4 linked regions of the Homo sapiens genome follow. The protein of the gene in region 1 interacts with the protein of each later gene in a biochemical or structural test. Each region holds a gene or a part of one and is shown on either strand. Other genes may lie near its edges.

The links.
Region 2: the proteins of ATN1 (region 1) and MAGI2 form a complex in vitro, tested with the Homo sapiens proteins (one study listed by BioGRID).
Region 3: the proteins of ATN1 (region 1) and MAGI1 form a complex in vitro, tested with the Homo sapiens proteins (one study listed by BioGRID).
Region 4: the proteins of ATN1 (region 1) and NR2E1 form a complex in vitro, tested with the Homo sapiens proteins (one study listed by BioGRID).

Annotation. Positions count from the first base shown.
Region 1 is NC_000012.12:6,923,041-6,930,966, forward strand, and holds the start of ATN1 (atrophin-1), read left to right. Parts: upstream 1-4,918; 5' UTR 4,919-5,344; intron 5,345-5,460; exon of another isoform or gene 5,461-5,702; intron 5,703-7,926. UniProt on the Homo sapiens protein: Transcriptional corepressor. Recruits NR2E1 to repress transcription. Promotes vascular smooth cell (VSMC) migration and orientation. Corepressor of MTG8 transcriptional repression.
Region 2 is NC_000007.14:78,120,652-78,127,671, reverse strand, and holds part of MAGI2 (membrane-associated guanylate kinase, WW and PDZ domain-containing protein 2), read left to right. Parts: intron 1-255; coding exon 256-475; intron 476-1,834; coding exon 1,835-1,978; intron 1,979-7,020. UniProt on the Homo sapiens protein: Seems to act as a scaffold molecule at synaptic junctions by assembling neurotransmitter receptors and cell adhesion proteins. Plays a role in nerve growth factor (NGF)-induced recruitment of RAPGEF2 to late endosomes and neurite outgrowth.
Region 3 is NC_000003.12:65,426,904-65,433,923, reverse strand, and holds part of MAGI1 (membrane-associated guanylate kinase, WW and PDZ domain-containing protein 1), read left to right. Parts: intron 1-3,042; coding exon 3,043-3,225; intron 3,226-3,783; coding exon 3,784-4,404; intron 4,405-7,020. UniProt on the Homo sapiens protein: Plays a role in coupling actin fibers to cell junctions in endothelial cells, via its interaction with AMOTL2 and CDH5. May regulate acid-induced ASIC3 currents by modulating its expression at the cell surface.
Region 4 is NC_000006.12:108,161,277-108,169,032, forward strand, and holds the start of NR2E1 (nuclear receptor subfamily 2 group E member 1), read left to right. Parts: upstream 1-4,745; 5' UTR 4,746-5,489; coding exon 5,490-5,514; intron 5,515-6,746; exon of another isoform or gene 6,747-6,750; coding exon of another isoform or gene 6,751-6,886; intron 6,887-7,756. UniProt on the Homo sapiens protein: Orphan receptor that binds DNA as a monomer to hormone response elements (HRE) containing an extended core motif half-site sequence 5'-AAGGTCA-3' in which the 5' flanking nucleotides participate in determining receptor specificity.

The sequences.
Region 1 (7,926 bases):
TTCCCTCAGAAACTAGAAATGTGAATGAGGATTATTATAAAAGGGGGTCCGTGGAAGAATGATCAGCATCTGTGATGGGAGCGTCAGGGTTGGTGTGCTGAGGTGTTAGAGAGGGACCATGTGTCACTTGTGCTTTGCTCTTGTCCCACGTGTCTTCCACTTTGCATATGAGCCGTGAACTGTGCATAGTGCTGGGATGGAGGGGAGTGTTGGGCATGTGATCACGCCTGGCTAATAAGGCTTTAGTGTATTTATTTATTTATTTATTTTATTTGTTTTTCATTCATCCCATTAATCATTTCCCCATAACTCAATGGCCTAAAACTGGCCTGACTTGGGGGAACGATGTGTCTGTATTTCATGTGGCTGTAGATCCCAAGATGACTGGGGTGGGAGGTCTTGCTAGAATGGGAAGGGTCATAGAAAGGGCCTTGACATCAGTTCCTTTGTGTGTACTCACTGAAGCCTGCGTTGGTCCAGAGCGGAGGCTGTGTGCCTGGGGGAGTTTTCCTCTATACATCTCTCCCCAACCCTAGGTTCCCTGTTCTTCCTCCAGCTGCACCAGAGCAACCTCTCACTCCCCATGCCACGTTCCACAGTTGCCACCACCTCTGTGGCATTGAAATGAGCACCTCCATTAAAGTCTGAATCAGTGCACTGTTGTGTCTAAGGAGTCTTACTCTAGTCCCTATGAGGGGAGAGAAGATGGAGCACCTGGAAGCTGGTGAAACTGGATAGCAGAGCTGGGGGGGCACAAAAAGAGGAAGACAAACTGAACAAATATGGCCGAGATGATGGCACTGCCTACCCCATTCTGGCTAGGTGGGGTGCATGTGGCCCCTGCTTTCTTAGCAGAAGGCTTGGCTCCCAGACGCAGGTGAATTAAGGGGTTCAAGAGCCCCTAAAAGCATAAAATATTTTGTGTGTGTGTGTGTGTGCACGCGCATTTTGGGGGAAAGGGGGTCTAAGGTGTTTTCATATCCAAAGGGCTTGTGGACTGGAGCAGCTCCTGTACTGGGCCTCTGCCAACAAAACCCTGGCTGGTTCTCGAATGGAACAGGACTTCATGGCCATCACCCACTGCAAGATGGGGAAATGGGAAGGAAGAATGGTTCCGGGGGTAGTATACGGAAGGACCTAAGGAAACAGAGTCCTCAATAAACTGAAGATTCAGGAACAAAAGTGCTTAACAGAACCCTGGCTGGGTCAGACTAACAGTAGGTTTCCAATATGTGGCTAGAGACGTACTACTCCTTAGCTATAACTCGTTAACTCTTATGGGGCCTCAGCGTTGAGATGCTCATTCTAGGTACCCCCGAGGGGGACAAATCCCTTCCTAGTGGCTCGGATGCAAGGTTGCGTCCCACAGATAGGGTTTGCACATGGGAGATCTAACCACTAGAGGGAGTCAGAGTTTTGCAGGACGCCATACTGGACGCCAAGTGGGAGGAACTTCAAGGCTGTCCCCTGCGGGCCTCCCGCTCTGCTTCTGCGAAGGTCTGGTCCTGGCTCCCTCTGCCATCCTGCCCAGCTCCAAGGCTAAAATAGGTTCTAGTTCTGTATGGGTAGGGCCCATTTCTTTTCTTGCCCTCCTTCCCGGGTCCCTGACACCTCAGCCATTTTCAGTTCAAAGAGCCTCATGCCCCCTTTCCATTTCTGTGCCTTTTAGTTTCAGTGTGGGCATCTCATCTTTCCCTTTTCTCCTGGCGACCCTTTATGCCTCCCTTGGGGTTTCCTGTACTTTCCTCTGTGCCTCTCAGTTTTCTCTGGGGTCCCTGATACCCATCTTACCTTAGTAACTCCCAGACTGACCAGGACTATCCTAGTTTGAGCCTAGTTCCTAGCCTCTGTCCTTTCTTTCATCCCTCCTCACCAGGTCGCCTTCTCTGACAGTCTGGCCCCCCAACCCCCAAAGTATCGGGGTTGGATTGGGTTACAGCTAGCTCTGCCTGGGCCTCCCAGGCCCTTCTCTCCACTTTCCCTTTGTGCCGTTGCCTGGAGACCAATGGGTTGTGGGGGGCTGAGCCAGAGAGGGAGCTGGGGTGAGGGATGGCTGGGGCTGTGTGTGTGCGTGTGCGTGTGTGTGTGTGTGTGTGTGTGTGAGAGAGAGAGAGAGAGATGTCCCCTGCAGCTGGACTATAAGCCTGGCCCTCAGGTAGGGGAGGAATGGGAGAGGGTAGACAATGGTTTCTTTTGTGACTCTCACCATCCCCTATCCCCACATATGCCTAAATTTTTCTTTTAGTATCCATTGTAGCCCATTCCTTAGTGATTAAAAAACAAGGGAGAAGAGCTCAGCCTGGAAGGGATTTGGAAAGGGCTTGAGCCAAGGCCCAGTGGGAGACTGAACTGAGTGGTACAGAAAGAGAGGAAATGCCATGGGGAGAGAGGGTGAGAGGGAAAGGGGGAGCCCTGGAACAAAGTCAGGGGTGGGGAGGAGCAGCAGCTACCCTAGAGCAAGAGGAAGGGAGTCGGGGTGCACAGGGAGACAGGGAGCTGGCCTGGTCTCAGGGAGGCCCTGGGAGGAAGGTGTGCTTGGAGTGGTAAAGTGAGTGCCAACCAATTCAAGGGACTTCAGAGTGATGACTCATTCCCAGGCCAAGGAAGTGTTCCTGTTCCTGCGCCCAGTTCCCCAGTGCTCTGGAATCTTGTTTAGAGCTTTTGAGTATTCCCAGAACTTTGTTGAATCTGGCCCAAGGAATTGTGAGACAAAAATCTACTGAGCTGCTCCAGAGCTAACCTCCTTCCTTCCCTGAAGGCAGGTGGGATCTTGCCAATTCAGGGCCCACCCTTAGCCTCCAGCAAGACTGGCCCCACAAGTACCCGACCCCCACCCCAAATCTGGAGCTCTACTGAGGGCTCCTAATCCACACTCCAGCTCCAGCTCTTCCGGCTTGCCAGCCTGCCTCCCTCCCATTCTCTGGCCTTCCCAATTTCTGCTGCCAAAAATCACCCTGTGTCCTTTGTCCTGGGAGATGTTGCCGCTTGGTGGAGGGCCAGGAGGGAGCCCAGGAGAAGGAACTGGTGGTGGGCTGGCGGAGGTGCTGGCTTCACGGCCGGGAGCAGACTGACTGCCAGAGGCTACCTGGAGAGCAGGGGAGGGAGAGGAAGGGTTGGGAGGAGCCTGCAGTCTGTGGTGGGGACTGTCTCCACCTTAGAACAAGTGGGATTGAGCAACAAGGATACCCAGGGATTTGGGTCCACATTAAGCCCAGTCTTCACCCGACTGCTTCCCTGTGACCCAGGGGATCTTTAGTGATGACTTTCAACAGATTTGAGAAGGAAAATGGAGATGCCACTAGATGGAAGGCCTGAGGATGGTGTCTCACTCCTCCAAGCTGTATCCCTTACCTATCTACCCATGAGCTTGCCAGCAACCTCCCCCCGCTCCCACATCTGTCATTTCCTTTAACTGCCCTCGTTTCCCATCTCCATTTTTTCTTTTTTTTTTTGAGACGGCGTCTCGCTCTGTCTCCCAGGCTGGAGTGCAGTGGCGCGATCTCTGCTTGCTGAAACCTTTGCCTCCCAGGTTCAAGGATTCTCCTGCCTCAGCCTCTGAGTAGCTGGGATTACAGGCATGCGCCACCACACCCGGCTAATTTTTGTATTTTTAGTAGAGACGGGGTTTCGCCATGTTGGCCAGGCTGGTCTTGAACTCCTGACAAGTGACCCACCCGACTCAGCCTCCGAAAGTGCTGAGATTACAGGCGTGAGCCCCCGCACCGGCCCCATCTCCATTTTCTTTTCCCATCCATGATCTTTCCTCTTCCATACTGCCGCCAGCCATAGGCCTTGTTCAGCTTACATTTCCTTCCAATCTTCTTATCCCCCTCTTCCCCATTCTGCCCGCCCAAGTAAACCCTCCTCGGCTCTACTGGGAGCCCCCACCCCCAGGATCCAGCCAGCCCGGTGTCTCCCACCCTTCTTTCCCATCCAGAGCCCTCCTTTCTCACCCAGAACCTATTTTCCCTAGAATTGGCACCTGGGCCCACCTCGTTCATCCCTTCTTAAGGTTCCTCACGCGTTCCCTCCTCTCTCTCCTCACTGACGTTTCCTCTGGACTTCTCTCTCTCCAGCATTCCTTCATCCCCCCACCCCCAATTCTTATATTTATGACTCTTTTGTCAACACTAATCACCCCCAAAAGCTTTACTTTTTCCAGAAGCCCCATCTTTCTATATATGTCATCTTTTCAATTTTTCTCTCTCCTTATGACCCCAAACTTCCATCCCATTCTCTCTGATAATAGCCCCCAAACCCGTCTGGCTCCATCTCTGCCACAGATCCCTCACCCCAAGCTTCTCTCACTTCTCACCAGGCACCCACAAAGCCCCCAGGCAGCTCCATCTTTCCAATCCAATCCCATTATCCCAATCTCTACCCCAGGATCCCCCAAACTCCTCCCACTTCACCTCTGCCACAGACCCGCTCGCCCCCAAACTTCAGCCTCCCCTCATCTGCCCTCACCACCCACAGCCCCTCCTACCTAGCCCTCTCCCGCGCCGGGCCCGCGGGCTCCCCACATTCCGCCACGGCTAGCCCTCCCCGCGCCCCGGCCCCCTCGGCCTCGGCCTCGGCCAACTCGCGCTGCGCCTCCCCCTCTCCGGCTCCCCCTCTCTCCCCCCTCGCGGCTTGCCTCGCGCTCCCTCCCTCGCGTCTCCCTCCTGGCCCCTCTCTCCTCCGTTCCTCCGCGCTCCCTCCTTCTCCCTCTTCCTCCCTTCTCCCATCCCCCTCTCCCAGGCTCCCTCCCTTCGCCGTCCGCTTTCCTGTGCGAGTCGCCGGACGCACCGCCCAGCCCGTCCGCAGCCCCGCGCCGGGTCGGGGCCTCGGGCCGGGCCATTTCGGAGGGACCGCGGCTTCGGGGAGGGGCTAGGAGGGGGGAGAGGGAGCCGACTGCCGGGGAAGGGGCGGGGGCCGCGGGCGAGGCGGCCGAGGGGCCCGGGATCGCGCGGGTGCGGGCTGCGCTAGGCGGGCGCGGGCGGCGGCGGGTCGGAACCGCGCCGAGGGCCGGGCGGGCCGCGGGGCCGGGCGGCGCGGCGGGGGCGGGCGGCGCGGCCCGGGGCATTCCGGGCGGCCAGGGGGAGGCGGCGAGCCCGGGGAGGTGGGGAGCAGAGCGGGGATCGGGGTTTGCTCCGGGGGCCGGCGGGCGATTGGGGCCAGGCGGGGAAAAGGGGGGATGGGGGCCGCCCTCCGGGGGGGTCGGGGCCGCCGCCGCCGTCGTCGCGGCGGCGACTGAGGCCGAGAAGAGGAGAGGGGGGCGGGGGAGCTGCCGCCGCCGCCCCCCAGAGGCGCCGGAGCCCGGAATCCCGCTCGGAGCCAGCCAGCCGTCCCGAGCTACCAGCAGGTAAGGTCTGCGGCCGCCTGGGCCCCGGGCCCGCGGGGTTCTGTCCCGCCCGGGCTCCGGCCTGCGGCTCCCCACCCCCACCCCTCCCAGTTCCCCCTCCTGCCGCCGCCGCCTCCATTTGTTATTTTCCCAATCCCGTCCCCCCACTGCGGGCTCTGCCTGGCCTGAGGGCCGGGGGCTCAGGGGGTGGGGCCCGCCGAGGAGAGTCGGGGGCCAGGGTTTCGGGAGGATCGGGAAGGTGGGGAAGGAGGGAGGGTCTCCGGAGGAGGCCTGTGGGGCCAGAGGGTATCCGGGACCCGCAGACTCAAAAGAGGAGGAACATCGAGGCCGGGGTTGGCGGAGGAAAACGGGGGATGCTGTGAGTGGGGTTCCGGGCGAAGGCAGAATGGATAGGAGAGATGGCAGCGAGGTGGGGCATGAAGCCTCCAGGAAAAAGCTCCAAAGGACCAGAACACGGGTTCCGGAGCCTGGGGTTGGGGGCTTTAGGAATAGACGGGAAGTGGGAAACGGGAAAGGGGTGTGGTAGGTGGAAAGAGGGATTGTGGCTGATGAACCTGGGGGAGACGGAGGCTTGGGCAAAGAGAGGTCCATTTTTGAGAAGAGCCGGAGGTTTTCCAGCGTGGAAGAGGGAAGGCCATGTCTTTGTGACGGTTTTCATTCCCCTACTGCAGGTCACCTCTGACCCTGTTTTCCCTATCCCAGACATAGTTATTTCTTGGAGAGGGCACTGGGGCCCAGTAGTGTGGGTTATCCCAAAACTAGTGAGGAGGAAAACAGGAACACAGAAGGGGGAGTTGGGAAGAAAGGGGTTCTGGGAGGATGGAAATGGAGAATTGAGCAACCTTACAGGCACTCCAGGCAAGTTGCGACCTCCACCCTCCACCCTCCAATTTCCGGAGCGTCCGCTGCCCCTGGAGCTGTGATCTATATAGGGAGGCCTTAGTTACTGCTTTGAGCTCAAAGATCTCCCTTTGTGCATGGGCTTATTTTGACTAGGGTAGGTACCTTCAAGCTCCCTTACCTGAGGTGCTATAGGAGGGTAGGAGTTGCTTTGGCAACTGGGGTAGGGGGTAGCTGCCAGATGGACACCTGGGATGGTCTCTTGAGGGGCACCTTTTGCCACTGTGTTGCTATGGTAGTGATCCAGTGGGATGTCAGATTGGTTGGGGGGGCTTCGAATGTTTATTGGACCTCAGCCTGTGGCTGTCCTTGGGACTCTGGGCTGGGTTTTGGAGGTTGTTTCTGGATCTGTTGGTGGTTGGGAGTTTCCCCACGGTGTGCACCCTTTCATGTTGAAGTCTGTTGGAACAGGTAGATACGTTCCTTGCAGATCATAGGTGTTTCTCCAAGTCTCTCCACCTGGGCATGATGGGAGGATGAAAACGCTTCTGTTCAGGTTACACCATCTTTTGGCAGTTGGTTCTGACCTCTACCTCCCTTATTATGTTATTTTTTGTAGAGTTGTCTTTTTGCTTCTTTGCACTTTCTTTCATTTTCTAAAACTTGAATTCCTCTTTGAGCCTCCCTTCTTGAGTAACCCTTTTCCTCTTTCCCTCAACTAACCTTTGGCCTTCTTCCCTGACCTTGTAGAAATGGCTGGGCTCCCAGGCCCATCCCAGGTGAGGGTGGCCCAGGACAGAGGGCTGTGAAACAGCTTCATGCAGGGGAAATACTATAGAACAGGAGCCAGGAGACCTGTGTCTAGACCTGGCTGTGCCTCTGTGACCTTGGGCAAGTCACTTCTCTTTGAGCCTGGGCTTCATTGTTAAGATGAAGGGGCTATAGATGAGATGATCTCTGAGGCCTCTCTGAAGGTCCCGGATTCTCAGAAGGCTTAGGCCAGTGCATCGTTATCTGCTGGTCTGGGCTGCATTGTTATCTAGGAGTCACTTTGGACTGGTTTGTTAGTCTGGCAGGTCCAGAATGATGTTGGGGGCTGGGCCAATGATCCTGAAATTTAGCCTGCGAGCCCCTCCCAGAGAGCTTGTGACTCCACTGTATTCCTTCTGACATCCCATATTTCTCTCTTAATTTCTTTTCCTGTTCTTACTTAGGGGCTCTTTTTCTAGTTCTCACTTTCCTCCCAACCCAGTCTGGTCTTAATCATTTTCTTTTTAAAGTAAGGTAATGGCAGTGCGCAGTGGCTCACGCCTGTAATCCCAGCACTTTGGGAGGCTGAGGCGGGCGGATCACGAGGTCAGGCGATTGAGACCATCCTGGCTAACACGGTGAAACCCCGTCTCTAGTAAAAATACAAAAAAATTAGCCGGGCGTGGTGGCGGGCGCCTGTAGTCCCAGCTACTCAGGAGGCTGAGGCAGGAGAATGGCGTGAACCCGGGAGGTGGAGCTTGCAGTGAGCCGAGCCGAGATCGCGGCACGGCACTCCAGCCTGGGTGACAGAGTGAGACTCCGTCTCAATAAATAAATAAATAAATAAATAAATAAAATAAAGCAAGGTAATGAAGGTGAATGTGCTTAGTATGTGGCCAGATACAGAGTAGGTGCTCTGTAATATTAGTTACAGTGATTGCCTGCTAGGAGTGTAGGCTGGTGCTAAAACATGACCCAGGTCTAGAAAGACA
Region 2 (7,020 bases), on another chromosome or scaffold:
TCACAAGGTTCTGGTTGAACCATCATTTTTACCTTGACTTCGTAAGGAGCCAAATAAAAAGCATACAATATGGCATTTGTCAGAGATTTTTAAATAATATTTAACCTTCTCATAATCCTGAGCATCCAACAGGACCACCGAGAGGAGTGGTTTGTGTGAGCTGTCATGGCTGGCCCACCTCTGGAGGCCGTGTGATCACTCTAGCCTCTTTAGAATGCAGAGTTACAAAAGCAAATCCCATTTCCATTGATTTAGTTACAGGTCGGAAGTGAAAGCAAGGCAAGATGTGAAACCAGACATCCGACAGCCTCCATTCACAGACTACAGGCAGCCCCCGCTGGATTACAGGCAACCCCCAGGAGGGGACTACCAGCAGCCCCCACCCTTGGACTACAGGCAGCCTCCCCTACTGGACTACAGGCAGCACTCCCCCGACACCAGGCAGTACCCTCTGTCGGACTACAGACAACCCCAGGTACCTCCTCCCGGAGAGCAGGGTGGGTCCTGACCAAGGCTTCCAGAGAACTGCAAGGAATGAAATAGGAGAGGCAGAGGAAAGAGTACCTGTCTGGGATGGAGAGCTGAAGTTCTATTCCTAGTTCTGGTAACATCGGGGTAACACCTGCATCCTCAGAAACATGCTGGATAAATAAATCTATTTCAGAATAAAGCAGGACAATAAATAAATATGGATAAATACATAAATAAATAGCGGATGAGTAGTAATGGAATAAACTAATCCCTGCTAATACTAGCTAACTCCTTGTACGTTTCCTTGTCAAAGTTTTAAAAATGCTCTAACCTGGGACCTCTGAGAGTGCTGCTAATGCAGAAAATTTTATAGATGCTAGCAGTGGAGGTATTTTAGGTCCATATTTTTTTACGTGGCCCCCTACCTGCCACTCTGTGATAAAGGGCCAAGCCCCTGTGCGTAAGAATAAGACCAGGCTTGGCTTCACAATCCAGAGTGTAGCGCCTGCCACAGCCAACAACTCTCTGTCTACACAACCAGTGTCACTGTTGTTATGATTATTTGTTGATGTGCTTCATGTCAACTTCCTTAACTTCTCTGAGATTCAGTTTCCTAAAGGGAGAGTCTTCCTTACAGGCCAGGATGAGGATTCAACATTTATGAAAAGAGTCTAGACCAGAGTTTGGTATCTAGAAAATATTTCCTACTTCGTAACTACATACCAAGATATAAATTAAGTACAATCTCAACTCTATCAGATTACATTGTGTTTTATTATGAATTGAAGATCAACTTTATGCCCAAAGATTTTAAGAATAGTGAAGATCAGAGAATCTTGGACATACTGCATTTTAGGTAAAAGAGAAATTGATTTTGTACATTCCAACTTGATATTCAATAGTCTGTGCAACTGAGAGATCTAATTATCAGATCCCACTAAATTTTACTTTTCTAATCAGCAAACTCTGTAATTTGTACACACACACACACACACACACACACACACCTGACATTTATTTATGGTGCTCAATAGCAGTGAATGAGAGAAGTAAAAGGAGAGATGATGTCACTCAGGCCTATCTGTAATCATTCCACGTTTGCCAAGTAAACTGATGAATACCAAAGTAAACAAGCTACACAGTAATTCTTTGATGACCAAGTAAACTGTGCTCTGGCCTGCTCAAACCTTTGGAATTTTGTCTTTCATTTGGGTAGTTTATGAAGCCAGATTACGACTTCTCCCAACATCATGTCATTTGGAATACATTAACTAAGAGACAGAAGGAGAACACAGAGACTAGCCACAGAAGCTTCTCTGATAACTAAATAATTATTTATTCCATTTTCTCCCCAACCCCAAAGGATTTTGATTATTTCACTGTGGACATGGAGAAAGGAGCCAAAGGATTTGGATTCAGCATTCGTGGAGGAAGGGAATACAAAATGGATTTGTATGTGTTGAGACTGGCAGAAGATGGACCAGCAATAAGGAATGGGAGGATGAGGGTAAGAACAGTCTCTTTTTATAGAATTGCTTAATTCTGAAAGAAAAACCGACTGTGGTATTGGAAGAGTACTGAAGCATGCTGTCAAGCGGGGTTGCTGTAGGTTTGCCCTCTTTCTAGTTGATGATGACCCAGTTTCTTAAAAGTCTGGCCACTTGCTATTTTATAATATCTCTCATTCTCATTTTTCTGCTTATGACCTTCTAATTGATTAACCTCAGTAAAGTACTATTTTTCTAAAGAGCAAATGAAAGAAATCTAAGAAATAGCTTGAAAAGGAAACATTATTTCTCCATAATTCTTTCTATGGTTTGATGATTCTGTTTTGATTAAGGTTGAATCTTTTGAAATTTATTTTTAGTTTTGTGCTTTTTCCCCCATATTGATTAATCACATGGTTTTGCGGGACTTTTAGGAAATTTTTCCTTTGTGTTGACTGGTCTTTTGGTTTGATACTGGGCAGACAGAAGCATTAGGAGTAAAAGGGATTTGGCTTCTTGGATACAGGTTGTTCTTAAAAATGACAGCAGGGGCCGGGCGTGGTGGCTCACACCGGTAATCCTAGCACTTTGGGAGGCTGAGGCGGGAGGATCACAAGGTCAAGAGATGGAGAACAACCTGGCTAACACTGTGAAACCCCATCTCTACTAAAAATACAAAAAAATTAGCCAGGCGTGGTGGCGGGCGCCTGTAGTCCTAGCTACTCAGGAGGCTGAGGCAGGAGAATCGCTTGAGCCCAGGGAGGCGGAGGTTGCAGTGAGCCAAGATCGTGCCACTGCACTCCAGCCTGGGCAACAGAGTGAGAATCTGTCTCAAGAAAAAAAAAAAAAAAAGACAGCAGCTAGAAATTTTCCAATTAAAGTTAAGAGTAGATTTTTTCATTTAATAATTACTTTGAGGCATCTGATTGATGGGTAACTGATTCTTCATTTAAGGGTATAAAACAAAGCTTGTTAACAATATAAAATATTAGTCTCTTTACTCTCTCTGTGTGTTTGTGTGTGTGTGTGTGTCGGTGTATGAATAAAATCTAGAATTTATTCTTGCCCTCCCTCCTGCCTCTTTAAGTTAATAAAGAAAAGCTGTGGCTTTGGGGTTCCGGAACCTCAGGTTCTTGTGCAGAGCCTCACCAACCAATTTTCCCTGATGGCTGAATCTGTTATTTCTACCACCAAGTCTGCATTTCTATGATACGCATTTCCAAGTCAGAGGATTATCCACAGTCCAAAAGCAGAAGGCATGCACATCATGTCTTTGTTTCTCCCCACTACCACAATCCTTTGACAGCTGGGAAGCATCCAAGTTGGAATTTAAACCCAGGCAGGGCTGACACCAGAGACTGGCAGCCCTCCCCGTGATCTAGCACCAGCCTCCTCTTACCCCGTCTAGCCCTGATTTGAAGATGGGCCTCCACATGGTTTCCTGGCTCTACAGCTTCCCTATAAGCCAGAAGGACACTTTCTTAACCTGCTATAAGGCCAGCTCACAAGCAGTTAAGTAAAACAAAATTAATCTTTCCAGTGCAGGTGAAACACAGTAGGAAGACCATGTGCAAAATGGCCAGAGCCCTGTGAGAGATAGAGACCCACGGTGGACTACAGGGCTGGTCTCTGTCGGTTACAAACAGTGGCCATGTATTTTCACAAGGGATCTAAATGACTCGCTGCTGGATATACACAGTACTCCCAAGGCAAAGAAGCCTAAATAGAGAAATACCCTTGCAGGAAAAGATTCCTCTTTCTTACAGAATTTAAGCCAGAGCAATGGTTCTCAGCACGGTTCCTGGCATCAGCATCACCTGGAAACTTGGTAGAAATGTAGATTCTCTAGCCCCACCCAAAACTGCTGAATCAGAAACTCTAGGAGTGGGGTCACCAGGCTATGTTTTAGGAAGCTCTTCAGGTGAAACTCTGAGGTTTTACCTTCCGAGGTTTTATTATAGATACCTGTGTCAACTGCAATCCAAAAATATTACATAAAATTTTTCAGAAATAAACAATTATAAATTTTAAATTGTGCAGCGTTGTGAGTATCGTGCTGAAATTTTGTCCTTCCCAGAAGGTGAAACAGCCCTTTATCCACACTGTAGATGCTACCTGCCCACTGGTTACTCAGCAGCCCTCTCGATTATCAGATTGACTATCATGGTATCGCACTGCCCGTGTTCAAGTAACCGTTGTTTTACTTAGTAATGGCCCCAAAGTGCAAGAGTAGTGATGCTGGCATTTTGTTATAATTGTTCTTTTTTTATTGTTTTTGATCCCTTGCTGTGTCTAATTTGTAAATTAAACTTTATCATAGATATATATAGGGAAAACAGTGTATATAGGGTTAGTTCTGCCTGTGATTTCAGGCATCCGCTGGAGATGTTGGAATATATGCAAGAGGTATGAGAGGGAGCTACTATATTCACTTTATCAAAAAACCAGTGGAGAGTAGCAAGTTTTGACTTTAATTATTATACTAGATGGTTTTTCAACATCAGTTAATACTGATGTATTAAAAGTTGAATAGATAAAACAAAACACAATCTGTGAATGCAGAAAATAAGGGGAATAATAAAAAGAGATATATCATTGTCACGTCTGCTTGCTTTTCTTCAGTCAGTCAAGAAGGCTGGTGTCATAAGAGAAACACAATGGACATTCAGATTTTAAGGAAAAGGATAATAAATTATTAGAAAATATTACTGGAGCTGTTTATAAAAAGAAGACTTACGTTTGTAAAATGGCCTAATAAAATTGGGAGGGATGAAATTTTCATAGCTAGTGAATAAAATCTCTGATACAAAGCTCCTAGGAATATAACCTAATTAAAAGCCAAAACTAAATAGAAAACACAGGCAAAAAATAATGAACATAAAAAATAATATTGGCAAAGCTCAGTAAAACAGGGAATGTAAGAAATCAGGAGACATTTGGAGGGAAAGAATAGAAATTCTAAGTGCTTAAATAAAAATCTGAGAGTCAAGTTAAAAGAGAAATCTGAAAGGAGATCGTTTGCTCTTAAAATGGTAAAATATTTTCCTGTTTCCATAAAAGTGTAATATAGTTCGCATTTCCATAAAATGTATTTTTATGATGAAAAAGAACATTATTTCATAACTTCATCACTTGCAGCTGGGTACCATTTGTGTATGCCTATTTAGCATCACATAAGCTTATTTATAAGATGGTTTACCTACTTTCTGAAACTCACATGATGCAAAAGTCTGCCTGCAATGGGCTTTGGAATGACTAAAACATTTTGTTCAACCAATCAATGCACAAAAAAATATCATTTGCCCATCTTTTTTTTAAAGGAAAAGCAACATTCCCTGAAATTAGCTTCTTCTAAATTTGTCACCTTTCCTTCTATAGACCAGATATAACTAGTCAATACAAAAGCATCTTGGTTTATATATTGTTTTTATTAAACATAAAACGATTTACAAGAATATTTCTAACATATGTAATAAGTGTAAATACTAACCATGATTCAAGGACCCATGAACCCATAGCCCCACTTAAAAAACAGAACATTACCAAGCTCCCATGATTTCATTCTCCTCCTACTCTCCAGCCCTCAGAGGGAACCACCTTCCTAAATAAAGCACTTGACATTTCTTCTGTTGTTACCACAGATGTGTGTATCTCTCAACTATAACCTTTAGCTTGGTGCACTTTGTGAACTTTATGTAACTGAACCATACTGTACATGTTCTTCTCTGTGGTTTGCTTTCTATATGTTATGTTCATGAGATTCATCCAAGGTTGGTGCATGAAGCTATAGTCCATTTATTTTTCACTGCTATAAGTTATTTCATTATGTGAATATGCTACAACCTATAATAATTATCTATTTTTCCATTTTATGGACATTTGAGATTTTCCCTGTCAATTTACACTTTGGTTGTTTCCAAGTTTGTTGTAACTCATACAATCTTTGTACATCTTTCCTGCTGTACCTATGCAAGACTTTCTCTAGACTAGACTAGATGCCTTGGAGGGCACAAATTTAACTTACCTAAGTAACACAAAAGTATTGTCCAAGGTGGTTTTACAAAGTTATACTTGTATTAGCATATGTAAAAAAGTTTTTCTTACTACACACACTCACAAGATTTGTACGTCAGACTTTTAAACTCTCATTCTGGTAGGTAGAAAATTATATATTTTAGATTTGGATTTGCATTTCTTGATTACAAATTCATATTCATCATTTTTTCTTATATTTATTAGACGTTCATGTTCTCTCTTAACTAAAAAATGCCTGTACATGTCTTTCCTCATTTTCTGTTGAATATTTCTTCATGTTGATTATAGAAATGCTTATATATTATTGGTGATCTTTTTCATCAATTAATGTGATACAGATATCTTATGCCAGCTTATGGCTTGCAGTTTCACTTTCTTTATGATGCTCTTTGATAATGAGAAAGTCTTAATTTTAGCGTAATTGGCTTAACCCTTTTTTTTTTTTTTATAGTTTCTGCTTTCTGTGTCTTGTTTGAGAAATCATTCTCCAAGACATGGTCTTAAACGTCTTCTCTTATATCTTCTTCTAAAAGTTGTATAGTTTTACTTTTTATATCTAAGTATTTAATCACCTACAGTTGATTTCTCTGTATGATATAAGGTAGAACCTCAATCTCAATTTTTCCATATGGATAACCACATGTCACAGCATCATTATTTTTTTTTTTTTTTTTTTTTGAGACGGAGTCTCGCTCTGTCGCCCAGGCTGGAGTGCAGTGGCGGGATCTCGGCTCACTGCAAGCTCCGCCTCCCGGGTTCACGCCATTCTCCTGCCTCAGCCTCCCAAGTAGCTGGGACTACAGGCGCCCGCCACTACGCCCGGCTAATTTTTTGTATTTTTAGTAGAGACGGGGTTTCACCGTTTTAGCCGGGATGGTCTCGATCTCCTGACCTCGTGATCCGCCCGCCTCGGCCTCCCAAAGTGCTGGGATTCCAGGCGTGAGCCACCGCGCCCGGTCCACAGCATCATTATTTAATGAGTATTTCTTTGTCCCACCCCCCACCAATCTGCAATGACAGCTCTATA
Region 3 (7,020 bases), on another chromosome or scaffold:
TGACTAGTGGCTGCCATATTGAACAGTGCAGGTGCAGAGCATTTCCATCATCACGGAAAGTGCCATTAGACGGTACTGGTCTAGGGTATTTAAACACTAGTGTCAAGAAGTGACATTTCTTTCCCCTCCCCCCATCCTGGCAGGGAAACATGCACCTAAGGTTCATTCAGGTGCAGAGTTTTGGGCCAAGACCCAGAACATCCTGATCAGTGAGTCTAAGGAAGGAAGTGAAAATGAGTACATTTTAAAAAGCTACCCAGGGGATTTTCCCTGGGTAAGACACAACCAAGTCTTACCGCTGGTGACTGGTAAACAGAGGTTAGGATCTTAGAAAATTACATGTACCACAGGGCTGCAGCTGAGAGCTCCAAATTCCACTGCTTATGGGGTGAAAAGCGTTTCTTTCCAAAAGCTACATTAACTAATGATCCACCCATACGTAAAAAATAATAAAATGTGCATAAATGTGAAACCCTCTGATTTTCCTTCCCTTGTTAAACATTGGAAAAGGAAGTCAGTCGTATAATTTCAAAGCTCTGCTCATGTCTTTATTAAGTTAACATTCTCAGCACAAAATATGCTAATGTATTTTTTTTTAAGTAGATAAACTGCCAGGCACATTTTCACGTTTTCTAACTTAGCCTATAATAAGAGTGAAAAGCTCCAACAACCAAACACCTCTTTTCAGCCTTCTCAAAGACATGATAAATATCATTTCTGTGTGCTTTTATTTGTTCATTCATTCTCTCACTCAACAGAAATTTTTGGAGCACATAAAATGTACCAGACAATATTCTAGATACTTGATATACGTATAAAAATCCTCATGGAGCTAACATTCTAGTGGTTTTATGTACCTGCATATCAATGCCACTCATGCATGGGAGTTGGGGATAGTAAGAAAACCAAAGCAATAAGTAAGATGTATATTCTTTTGGAAGGTGGTAAATGCTAAGGACAAAAATAAAGCAGGAAAAAGGGATTGGGAATGTTGGAGGTACTGCAATTTTTAGTAAGGTGGTTAGGGAAGGTCTTGCTGCGAAGGTAATGGCTGTTGATGTCTCTGCATAACTGAAATGTGTTTCCCTTCAGGGCCCTGGAATGCCCTAGCAGCACCTGCTACAAGAGTGTAGGCCAGTCACCCTCCTCCCCCTAAAGTAAACTTTGGGGGTTATCTTACCTCACCTCAATTTCCATCTGATAATTGTCTTGGCAGCTGTCTCCCCAAAGCTCTTGGTGCAAGTGACACCACCCTCCCAACGCCTTGGCAGATGACTTTGCGTGGCGAATCCTTGTAAGTCTTGCCTTTCTTTAGCCACTATGACAGGGCTGTAGTTTGTCAACCTTCCAATAAGCTTTGGGACTGCGCTAGAGAGCAGGTTAGCGAAAGGACCTCTGATTGCAGGCAATTTAAAAGAGCCTTCTTTGCAAGAGCCAGAAACTTTTAAAATATGCAATTAAAAATTGTATGCATGCCCAGAGACCTTTTAAACTCTTTTAGATATAACTAACCAAAAATAACTTTCTTTCCTAGGTGCCAGGCTCCTAGTACAGGGGTGTAGGGGACTAATGTCTCCCTCTTTCTCTCTCTCTTTTTGTTTTGGATAACATTTTTGATAGAAAAGAAACAGGGCAGATGGAGAAGCTGTGTGTGGCAAGGACAGGGTATAAGAAGTAAGTAAAGTTAGAAGAGATGAAAGAAGCTGCTCATGAAATTAGGTCTACTACTTGGGATAATCAGAGAAGTTCCAGTAAGTTTCTCAATTACAGAGAAGTGCCTAGTAAAACCCAAAAGAAAACGTTTTGGTTTATGTTCAAAATGTTATTTGTGAATGTATCAAGAAAACTCAATAAAACCTTAGGTAGCATGTTTGGAAATAATTTAGCGATACCTCTATCTGTAAATTTATTTTATTTTTATTATTTTTTTGAGACAGAGTTTTGCTCTTGTTGCCCAGGCTGGAGTGCAATGGCGCAATCTCAGCTCACTGCAACCTCTACCTCCTGGATTCAAGTGATTGTCCTGCCTCAGCCTCCCAAGTAGCTGGGATTACAGGCATCCACCACCTCATCTGGCTAATTTTTGTATTTTTTTTTTTTAGTAGAGACAGGATTTCACTATGTTGGCCAGGTTGGTTTTGAACTCCTGACCTCAGTGCTCCACCTGACTCAGCCTCCCAAAGTGCTAGGATTACAGGCATGAGCCACCACACCCCCAGCCTAATTTATTTTAAATAAGACAGCTGAATTTGGAGCTGTGTGGCTACTGTTAGTAACTACTTAGTTTAGGGATTTTGTGTGTGTGTGTTGTGGGGGGGGTTTCTTTGTTTGTTTTTTTGGTTTGTGTTTTTTAAACAAATATCCTAAACTTGTTTTAAACAGTAATTCTTAGCCCTAGGCATGCGTTGGCTATATCACAAATTTAATAAAAGATCAGATAAATAGGAAAAAATCAGTTGAATTTAGAATTCAATTCAAAGTAATGACCCTTAATTTTGAAAATAGTCATTCTACATTTTTGTCAAATTATTATTTGTGACTATAATATGTTTTCTGGTATTATCTGTGCATTTTCAGCCTGGATTTTCCGTTTGATTAGTTCTGTTGGTTTTTCAAGTGGAAGCCAGGCCCAAAGCAGCACATCAGAAGCCATATAGCAAAATAAAATTAAAACAAAACAAAAGACATAAAACAGACCAGTTCCATTTTCTGTGAAGGGGTTTGTGGCAGCTCAATTCCTGTCAAAGTGCATGAATGGAAACCAAGAAGTGTGTCACCTGACAGGGACTAGTTTCATCCCTCTCTTGTAGTTTCTTTTGGACCCTGGAGTTGACATACTCAATGCTTTACCTCCCTCCATCAACACTGGGGCCTAGGAACATCCTTATTCCTCAAATTAAGAGAGGACTTTCTTAAGATGCTATATGCCCAAAGGCTCTAGGGCATAAGCGTGAAGAATTATCTATATGTTGTCTCAAATCTTGTTTAATTCTCCTTTTCACCAGTGGTGACATTCCTTATGCGTTTCTTATTTTAATCCAGGCAAACCCTTTTTTACACGAAACCCTTCTGAGTTGAAAGGCAAGTTCATTCACACAAAGCTGCGGAAAAGCAGTCGTGGCTTTGGCTTCACGGTGGTTGGAGGGGATGAACCTGATGAGTTTCTCCAGATCAAGAGCTTGGTCCTAGATGGTCCTGCTGCATTGGATGGCAAGATGGAAACAGGTAGCGTCAACATGGCCTTAGTGTGTTCTGTGTGGTGAGACTCCAATCCAGGAGATAAACATGTGCAATCATGATGTTGTTTGTTTGAGCAAGACCAAGCAACGTCATGATTGCACATGTTTACAGCTTTAAACACCTTGAGAATGAGCCAGGTCTCCACATTACATAAATTCATCCCTTGGGACAGATTAAAACCTGTGAAGTCATTTTAAGTTTGGGAAACTGTTTGAGTACAGTAAAGCAATGAGTTACTAAAACTGTAGATCCCCATTTAAATAAATGAATTCTAAACTTGGATTTCTGCAGTGAGATTTTTTTTTAGGAGAAAGCTCCAATGTTCTGTGAGTGATTATTACATTCTCATTAGCAGGGAAGACACTAGGTGCTGAAAGAACACTTTATTAGCTGTTAAAATCAGTAATAGAAGCACTTTATACCCTATAGTATCACACCCACATGCAGTTTCAGTTCAGCTTTATGTTAGTGGGAGATATTATAATACTGATGACAATTTTCTGGGTGCTGTTTTCTTAACCCCCACACTCTTGCCTTCTACAGGGGATGTGATTGTAAGTGTGAATGACACCTGTGTTTTGGGACACACACATGCTCAAGTTGTGAAGATCTTCCAGTCCATCCCCATTGGTGCCAGCGTGGACCTTGAACTCTGCCGAGGTTATCCATTGCCTTTTGATCCAGATGACCCCAATACAAGTTTAGTGACCTCGGTAGCCATTTTGGATAAAGAACCAATTATTGTGAATGGGCAAGAGACCTATGATTCACCAGCTAGCCACAGTAGTAAAACAGGCAAAGTCAATGGCATGAAGGATGCCAGGCCAAGCAGCCCAGCGGACGTGGCTTCAAATAGTTCTCATGGTTATCCTAATGACACTGTTTCTTTGGCTTCCTCCATAGCCACTCAGCCAGAACTCATAACTGTTCATATTGTCAAAGGGCCAATGGGCTTTGGTTTTACTATCGCAGACAGTCCTGGTGGGGGTGGCCAAAGAGTGAAACAGATTGTTGACAGCCCAAGGTGCCGAGGCCTGAAAGAAGGGGATCTCATAGTGGAAGTTAATAAGAAGAACGTGCAGGCCCTAACTCACAACCAAGTGGTGGATATGCTGGTTGAGTGTCCTAAGGGAAGTGAGGTCACATTGTTGGTGCAACGAGGAGGTAAGTAGGGTTGTTTTGTTCTTTGAATTTTTTTTTTATCCCAAATTCATTGCTTAACTTACTCATCTTCAGATGACCACTGGGGGCTTTTTAAATTTATTTAAATGTTTCAAAATGCCTACTGATTTCTCCAAATACTAACCTCTTTAGCATAAAAATTGTGGTTTATACATTATGACAGACATATGCAGTTAGAATGATACCTTAAAACAGAAATCAGATTTTGCCTTTTTAAAATGTTAAGATTTAAAAACCTAAGTTGGGTGTGGTGGTACCCACCTGTAGTCCTGGCTGCTTGAGAGGCTGAGGCAGGAAGATCACTTGAGCCCAGGCATTTGAGTCCAGACTGGGCAACATATTGAGACCCCATTCTCTAAAAAGTTTTTTTATATATATATAAAAAATAATAACCTTTATCCTTTAAATCTCCTGAACTTGGCCTGCATAGCCTGCAAAATGTGGCTATGGTCACTCCAAACTTGTCTCATGTTCCTCTCCTCCATCTGATGGTGCTTTAGCCACACTGGCTGCTTTTATGGAGCTCCTTTAATGCTTCAAGCCTTTTCTTGCCTCAGGCCCTTTGTATTTACTGTCCGTTCTGCCTGGAATGGTCCTTTCCCAGCTCTTCCCAGCTGGCTCAGTCCCATTCAGGTCTCCTTATGAGAGAGGGCTTCTCCCATCACTTTATCTAAAGTAGCTCCCAACACTTCCATATAATCTTTATCACAGTTTTTCATAACCTTGATCATCATCACCTTTTTAGCACAAGACGTTATTTCATGCTTTTATTTATTTTTCATTATTTGTCTTTCATTAGAATATAAAGCTCCATAAAGCCAGGGCCCATGTGTGCATGTGGACAGCTGTTATCCCCAGCATTTAACACAACACCTGACTCCTTTTAGGTATTTATGAATGAATAGGTATTAAGTGAATAGGTATGTGATTATTTCTATTTGGCAGAAACAAGAGGTCTGCTAATCATATTAAACACTTCCCTCCACATGCTCGCGTTTAGTAGTTTAGGATCTCAGAGATCTGGGTTATTCTAAATCTCGAGGCATTAAGCTTCCTCCTTTCTCCTTGAGTCCGTATCCCACCCTCTGCCTCACCAGAAAACACAGGACGTCACACTGAGCAATACTTTCCACCATATTGAAGTGTCTTGCTCCTGGAATATATACTTATATGTGATTAGTCGTGACTGATAGTTTTACACAGTGGGCCTGAGAATGGCTGTTTCCCTGATCCTTGCTACCATGATTTGTTTCATGAACAACATATTCAGGCCTTTTGAAAAGAGATCAAGAACCAGACTTTGACTTCCTTTTGGTTTGTTGCAACAGGAGAGCTCATTTGTGTCACAGCAGCCAGATTCTCATGTTTTCATGAACCTGTGTGTTCTGCGATCAGAATGGCTGGGGTCATTTGAAGGAAACCCAAAATACAGAGTAGCTGTCTATGTGAATTGAAATGCTCAATGAGCCTGGCTTAGGCAGTTATAAAAGGCATTGTGCAAATTTTATTTTTTTTAAAATGTCATTTCCACCAACTAATTTTCAAGTCTCTTCTTGTACCTAGATCACTTGACTGCTCAGAGAACTGGTTTTAAACAGTAGCCAAGATGTATGTAGTAGGAAATGACTTGGGTATAAGAACGATTATGACAATAATGATGATGGTGATGATGAAACCTGGCACTTATAGAAGAATCAGTGATACACAAAGCACTTTCATACCTGCACGTGCCTCTCCACTGATATTTGTCACTTCCCTGTGAGGTAGGAAGGTGCCACCCCACAGTAGTTCTGAGCTGTTCACCCTGGCTCTGTGGTTTCCAGTCCAATGTTCTGCCCTACTTAACTGAATAACACTGATTTTTGTATAGTTGCTTAATACTGAGGCTGACAGCCTGGAAACTTTCAAATAATTCTTGGTACATCAGGTGCACCTCTGATTCAGCCACTGCTCATTTGACAGACACAAACCACCTTGTTCTCCTAACTCATCTATCCTCTTTCTCATTTCTGTTATTGATGTGGTTTATTATCCCATTAGATTCACTTCTAAGGAGACCAAACATAAAGTTTCATTATAGCCAACTAACTTACACATGTATTAGAACCATATTGTAATGAATTCGCCTAAGCCAGCAAACAACTGATTATAGAAACGTACTCCTTGATTTTATTTTTTATTTTTATTTTTGAGACAGGGTCTCACTTTGTCACCCAGGCTGGAGTGCAGTGGTGCCATCTCAGCTCACTGCAGCCTCAACCTCCTAGTTTCAAGCGATCTTCCTGCCTTAGCCCCCCAAGTAGCTGAGACTATAGGTGCATGCCACCACTCCCGGCTGATTTTTGTATTTTCAGTAGAAATGATTTCTCCATGTTACCCATGCTGGTCTCGAACTCCCGCGCTCAAGGGATCCACCTGCCTCGGCCTCCCGAAGTGCTAGGATTACAGGCATGAGCCACCACACCTGACTATACTCCTTGATTTTAAATATGTTTGCATTCTCTCTTCTTAATTCCCAATGCCATCTTCTCATTAATGGTGTTACATTTTATAACATTTATATGAAAAATCCGGAATATATTGCCATATTCATCAACA
Region 4 (7,756 bases), on another chromosome or scaffold:
TAATTCACAGGAAATTAGGAGGCTGAAGAAAGCTTGGCAGCCAGTATCTCCCTGGATGTAGTCTGTGTTCTGCTTTCTTGTTTCTCTAGTCATTCTTTTGTTTTCAGAAAGCCAAAAATGACCTGCACTGCTTCCCAAGGTTTGGAGATTCAGAGGACCTGTCCCTGTTCCCTTCCTACCCCATTGCTGGGGCTGAGCAAAAATGAGCCCTTCACCTCAAGCTTCAGTAGCTTTCATTGAGTATCATCAGGCAGGTTCACTCATACATTCCACATTTACAAAGCACCACTATGTGCCAGGGTGCAAGGGACTAGAAAGATGTTTCTACTTGATTATTCTTGGAGCCAGAGAATGTCAAGATGCAGCGGGACTCTAGAAGCCTCGGAGTCTCAGCCTGACTTTAGAACTGAATTTTTGTCCAACCAAGGGTGTGAATAAATGCAAAGACATGACTTGTTATTTGTTAAGGTTGTGGGGTGAGGGGGGTGGTCACACAGAGCATTGTCTCCTTGTTGTTAGCAGCGTTCATCTTCCTACTTGTGGGGAGTAACAGACTACTTTTGGCAATACAGTGCTCAAAAGTGTCAAGAAAAACCCTGCAACTCAGGACCCACTGGATTCTAGAGAACAAGCGTCTCTTTTCTGGATTGTTCTTGTTTATTTGGGGGGTAAATTTGGATAAGAATCAAACAACTTGTAGAGAGATCCACAGCAGAATCAAGAGCAAGCCTGCAAACACTGTTTCTTTCATTTGGCACTTAGCAAGCACCTACTATGTGCCAGACACTGCTCCATGACCCACCTCCTCTCTCACCATCCACTGGGCAAACAACAGCCATAGGTTGAATTATGATGTGGAAGCAAATGCAAATCAACTTCCTCCTTCATATAAACAAACAAACAAACAAACAAACAAAAACTTGTGTCAGAATGTTTTTGGATACTAAACATCAAAACTCAGCCAAGCTCAGCTGGTAGGTTTTCCCAGCGATTTCCTTGGTCTGAGCATCTCTTAACTCTGCATATCGGTAAGGGGAATGGTATTTTAAAGGAGTGACTCTCTAGAGGTTGAATGGCCTCTGTGAGGGGTCGATCACAGGGGATTGGGGAAGGGGTCTCTTTAACACCAATTCCATCAGCTCTGCTAGCTGATGGGAAAGCTTGTCCTTTCACCTTCGGTATTTTAATTTAGAAGAATGTGTGTGTGTGGAGGGGGTGTTAATGGAAAAAATGTCACCGTTTTTAGAGAAGCTAGTGAATGGCAGGGCTAGCAGTCAACCTCAGATAGTCTGAAACTTTGAGGGGTGCTCTGTACCCCTGCCTCTCTCATACAACCTAGTTAATAGGATTCTCTTTAACAGGGCACTAGCAGAGGAATGAGCTATAATACAATACAGTCCTCAGAGGACTGTAGAATCAGTAGATTCTCCTAACACAAGGCCAGCTTTCCAGGGCAATTCTGGACAGCCTATGTCACCGCACACTGGTTTAGGGCTCCTTGTATATATCTCCAGTGTCCTGTGTTTCATCCCAATCTAAAACATTTATCATCTTTTATGTGTCTGCTCCCTGCTACATGGAGAAAGGAGTCATGTCATTAATCTGCTATATCCCCAGGGTCTGGCATATAGTGGGTGCTCAGTATTTGATGAGTGGGTAGATTGATGGATGGGCAGAAATACCCCTTGATCCATGGTCCTCTCATGATCTTATTTCCTATCTCTTGGACCAAAATGTAAACATCCTTCGATAAAAGAACCTTCCCTGCGTTTTAGGCTTTGGTTTTGGTTGAGAGCTCCATACTCACAAGCGCCTACAGAGGAAATTAGGGGCTATGTCTGAACCTGTTTAGAAGGGTTTCAGAACCTCTGAGGGTGTGGCTATCCCCACCACCTTCCAAAGCAATAAACTTATCCTTGTAACTTAAGGTCTTGTCTCTGTTAAAAGATAATTCTGAGCCAGATGGCATTTGCCCCTTATCAATCATTTCCTTTAATGGACTCACAGGAAAAAATCTTTGAAAGTTAAGACCGAACAGGGTGAGAATCCTTTTACAAATAACAATCTGGAACCCAGAGAGGTCTAGCCACTCGCCTAAGGTCACACAGCTTGTTGGCACAGCCCTGAATCCCTATCTCGTGGTTTCCAGCGTTTAGCCTGGCTGTGCCTCCAGTGGCCCCTCAGGGCATCTGCAGGTGACTTCCCTTCATTTGCCCAACATTTATGCAGCACCTACTATGAATCAGGCAGCATGCTGGGGCCTGTGGATAGAAAGATGAAGAGCCATAGTCTTTGTCCTGCAAAGGCTTTCTTCTCTGAGCTGTACCCATGGTAGCCCCAAGTTTCTACGCCTTAAATCCGAGGTCCCCCGTGGCCTGCAGCAGCTTTGCCTGAGTAGAAGGCAGCCCGCACTAAGGCTCCAGGCTTATTTGGGACCTGGTGGGCGACGGGGCCTCAGCCCCTCCCGCCTACCCTGGAGCTTGTTGCCGCCGTTACCACTGAACCAGTCATGCCAGAAAGTCATCACGATGATTTCAGAACTGTATTGTGATTTATGCAAAGCGCGCCGATAATTACAGCCGGGCGCACAGAACACAGGATGCATATGCTGCGGGTGTGTGCGCGCAGTGTTGTGCCTTTCGCCAGGGCTGAATGGGGTGTGTGTGTATTCCGTAGGCATCTTCTTGACACCATGCTTGATCGGGGACTGGTGACAGGAAAAAGAGGGAAGATACCCATTTTGATTTTGAGACAATTTGATGAGCCTTGGGAGTATTTTCCAGAAGTTTTGGTGCCTACAAATGAGCCAGCCTGGCAGGAGCGTTCGAGAGTAGGGGAAGAGGTGGTTTGGAGCCCAGGAAAGCCATCGTCCAGCCCCCGCACAGGCAAAGCAATTAGTAGTTCTCCTTCTCGAAACAGACCCCTAAATGCTTCCCCTGCAGACAGGCCTGGGTCTAGTCATCACCCCCCACACTGCCCTCATCTTCGCCCCAGATAAATTAGTTCCACCCTTGAAGTTCTTTGTCCTGAACCAAAGAACCCCATAATCGCGTCCGCGTTATGGGGGTGGTGGTGGTAGGTGGCTGAAGCAAGTGGATTTCTGGCGTGAACCAGAACCTGAGGATTCCAAACGGAGCCTGGCATCTTATTGTGTTTCTCAAATCCTGCCCGAAATTCCTCCCCTCTCTGGGCGCCGAGTTCGAGAAAGCGCTACGCCGCCGGTCGGGCTAGCTCCACAAGCGGCTGTACAAGTTGGCTGTCAAAAAACGCTGATTTCTCCTCCTGTCACCTAATAAACCCCTACGCGCTTATGGCCTCGTCCCACAATCCCCCAATCTCGTCCCAATTCGAAAAACCGAGGAGGAGGGAATAAACTGAGAGATAAAGATCCCCCCATCTTGCTCTTTCCCCGGGACCCCAGCCTTGGTCGCGGCGCCCCACTAAGGAGGACACAGGCTCTGGTGTGTGTGGTGTGCGAGACCCCGAGCTCGAGGCCGAGCCAAGGCTGGGCAGAAAGTTGCAATCACGTGCTGTCGGAGCCCACTGGAGCGCACAGCCCGCTCCCCCTGGGACGCCCAGGCGGAGGACCTGCTGCGCCCTCCCAGGGCTCGGGGGACTCCAGCATTCACTTGCACGCACAGGCGAACTCTGATTGAAAGCCCGGGATGACACCGAGTCTGGAGAAAGAGGGACCGGGGGGTGGGCTGGCGGAATTGCAGAGCGCCGGCCACAGCTCCCCTCCCCGCGAACGTCGAGCGGAGGGCGGGAGGTGTAACCTCTGACCTCTGGCCGGGTCCACGCCCTGAGGAGGGACTGGCAAGCTCTTGTTCGACAAGTTCAAGCTGCCGAGAGAGCTTAAATAGAATTAATCTCTTAGAGATCGGGGATCATCGCTCCCTCGGCATGCGCTCTCCCAGCGCCGCGCACAGAGCAAGGCGCGAGAGAGCTCAGGAATCGCGGGAAGGCAAGCGGAATGGGGAGGGGGTAGGGGATGAGGGCCTCTCTTCACTATTCCTCCGCCCGGAGAGCGGGAGCCCGCAACGCCCGCCGAGGACGAGCGGCGGGAGGGAACGCTCTGCCCTCCAGCCGCCCCGGTGCAGATAATGGAGGCGACAAGAGATTCGCTCAGCGTCGGATGGGCCAGCTCTGCTTGGGGAAGCTGGCGGCATCCTCCCCTCGGCTGGTGCCCAAACCCACTGCGCGAAGGCCGAAGGAACGCGGAACCTCCAGAAGACCCCATCCTCAGCCCTGACTTTCCGTAGATATGTGCAAAATGAGTAAATTACTCACCTCGGGCCAGATCCAAGTTTTACCCAACAGAAGGGGCACCGGACCAAGAATGAACCAACTCACATGGCCATGTCCGGCGCGCACAATCACACGCCAGCACACAGCCACCCAATTTCTTCCGCGAATCTATCTGGCACTCTGGAGAGAGGGGGAAAAGCGTTTTGAGAAAGCCCCGTCACCCCTCCCCTTCCTTCTTGCCGTGAAATATACGAATTCATTTTTATTACGAGCCGCACCGTCCTCACCATCACGCACGCACAGAGCCACACTCCCATATTCACACTTTCTAACTCGTAAGCTCCGACAGCGCCTGCATTTTCTTTGGGAGCCGCTTGGAGGTTCATTAATATCATTAGCATTTAACCCCCTCCCTCTTCCCATCCCCTCCCCGCACATGGCTGACGTCAGACCCCGCCAGGAGTTGGGGGAAAAGCTAAGTGGGCCAGGGACGCCCTATTCCCCTCCCCGCGGCTGCCTGTCAGAGCGCTTCTGGAGATATTACAGGGGACCCAGCCCGCAGCGACAGGCACAAAGTCACGGGGTAATGAACTTCGGGGACCCTTCGCCGCTGCGTGCGCGGCTCTCCCCGGAAACCCGGACCTGGCCGCCTCTTCCCTCGGAAGATTTCCCAGCAATCTAGTTTTCCCACTCTGCGCTTGGGTTCCGGCAGCGCGGAGCCCGTCTGCCTCTGAGACTGCGGTAGTGTTTTCCTTCTTTCCTTGGGAGACCAGCGGTCGGCAGAGATTGCCCACACTCTGCATGCCTATGTAGAGGGAGAGATCGAAGACTGAGTGACAGGAATGGGGAAAAAGAGGGATTTCGCTCCGTAGGAAGGCCATTTTCGTGTCTCCATCTCTGTCTTTCAACATCCCTCTCTTGCTGTTCTTCCTTCTTCCTCAGTCTTCCTGTCCATCTCTCCATCTGTCTGTCCATGTGTGTGTCCATATCAAGCAGCATTCCCAGCAGCTGCGGTTTTGCAAGAGCCGGGAAGAAACTTAAGGATGCTTAAATTTCCACTGTTGGACGAATTCTGAGCGCCCAGGGAGCAGCGCAGCGCGCGACTGACACCCACCTGTCCCGCCCAGGAGCCTTGCAGGCTGGAGGGCAGCTGGAGAGCGGCGGCGCCCGGCGGCGAGGCGGGCGCTGCCGGCCGGGACTCGGGCAGCGCCCACCAACCGCTCCGCCCCGGGACAGCCAGCATGAGCAAGCCAGCCGGATCAACAAGTGGGTACCTCTCGGGCCGCCGTGGGGCCTAGGCGCGCAGCCTGGGGCGAGCGAGCGGGGAGGCTGGGGGAGGTCCTGCCTGGAGCGCTGCGAATCTGAGCCCCTGAGAGGGATTCCAGCGGGCGTGTGCGTTCGGCCCAGACCTGTAGACCGTGAGTTGGAGCATTTCGTGGAGAGGGGAGAGCCGTTTCGTTGCCTCTGGATTGCTTGATCCCCCCTGTCTGGTGCGGTGAGAAGGTTACGACCCGCGCAGCCCACCAGTCGGATGAGTTGTCTCCATTTAGCCGCCAGGTGCTGGATGGGGGGGCCATGGGGGCGGGAACTGGGCCGCAGCTCCAGGCGGTAGCACAATAACACACTCGCTCAAAACTCCGAGCTCCAGCGCGCAAAAGCAACTCTGTGCAAAGCGGATTTTGAATGGAATGCTTTGCACCCCGTTTCTAGCTATTTCAAATAATCCTGCAAACTGGGAAGCAGAAACAATTTAAAAGTCACATTTTCCTTAATCCTAAATCCGCGTAGGTCATAACTGGGGAATTTAAAGTATGGCGAACCACTCTAGCAAAGAGAGGACCAAATCCCTAATCCCAAGGACTTTTCGAGCCGGAGCCCAGCAGAGGCAGGAGTGCGCGGCCTGCTCCCTCCGTGCGCTTCTCTCCTTCCTCGAACTTCCTTAGCTGCCGGCTCTCCGAACGCCAGGCCGCAGCTGACCTCTCACCACCCCGAGACTCACGAGCGCAGGGCTAAGTGTGTGTGCGAGGGCATTTGCTTGCACCCTGCCTGCGGAACCCAAGAATGTGCAGGCCCGAGCCAGCGTTGAGCAGGCGCGGTCACGGTGCTCAGATCTCCCGGGGGCATTTCAGTTCCCGCCATCCAGTGGCCCACGGCTGCGGGCTCCAGGGTCTGAGGCTGGGGACTACCGTTGCCGCCGCAGTCCCCATATCCCGAAGTTGCCTTGCTGCTTGTGTTGTTTTCGCAGATAGCATTTTTGGCGCTCTGTGCGTTCCTTCCCTCCCCCTCCCCCTTTCACTCGCCCTCATTGTCCTGAGTCTTTGAAAGTTGGGAGAATCGGAGATACTTCTGAGGACTGGTAATGAAGTCTCACTTAAGTGGGATGCAATTCCCGCCCTCCTACCCCCCTCCAAGAAGGAGGTTGTGTTTTCATTTTGTTTTGCTTTGGGTGCTGACCTTTAAAAAATTAGAGCAAAATGAACGTGAACAAAAAGAAAAGGAGAAATGTTTCGAGCTGGGGCAGAGGGAGCAGAGAAGGAGCCCTCACCGCGGCCGGAATGCAGAGCGGACCCTGGCCCAGGACTGGGTTTCCCTTTAGGCTCGGGCCTACCCTGGCCCTCGCTGTTGGAATCTCCAGGAGGTAAAGCGACCTCGATTTTTGTTGCCCGCATTCCCGGGCGTGAGTGTCCTTCCCAGGAGGCTCAGGAGGCCGTTTCTGTTGCATTCTGAGCCTCCGTTGCAAAAACTGAAGCCCGTGGGTCTCGGCAGGCCTCCTAGCTCGCTCGCCCCGGGACAGGCCCTCGCCTACACCCCTGGAAGTAAGGAGCCCCGGGCTCTTTCGTCCTTTTCGGGGTGTGGAGCCCCTGGGGCCCTTGAAAGGTGAGGCCTCAGAGGCGAGGGAGGGGTGAGCGGGGAGCTCTGCCCGCCTGCGGCTGCGCCCCCGCTGTGGACTAGGAGGCAGGCCAACCCTCCGGACTTTGGGGGAAAAACCACAGCGGGCTCCTTGCGGAAACTTTGGCCGTTCTAACTTGCCAAGAGCCTGAGTGAGGCCTTGGAAGCCTCCAGCCCCGGCTCAGGTCGGGACGCGGCTGCTGAGCTTTCTCAGGCCCGCAGGACAGCGGCCCCCGCCGGTGGCGCCGCTGCATTTAGGCCCTTTCCAGACCGGTGGCGGCAGCCAACCCGAGACTTGCGTCCCTCGGGCCCGGGGCAGCTAGGAGGTCGGCGCGCAGCGGGCCGGGTCAGGACTGGGTCGAGCAGACAGAGCTGCAGCCCCCGCCTTGCCCGGCTTCTCGCGGCTGGAGAGCAGAGCGATGTCACCCGGAGCCCCGCCTGGGTGGTAACGAGACCCTGGCCAGTCACCCCTGCAGCCCAGACTAACTTCTTTCAACAGCCTCTGATGGTAATTACAGTAATCGAAGCTGCCATATATCTTTAGGCAATTATGACACACAAAAAGCCCCGAGGGGACCCCCTGGCGAGGGAAGTTAAGAACGGTTTTCCAGCTTCAGGA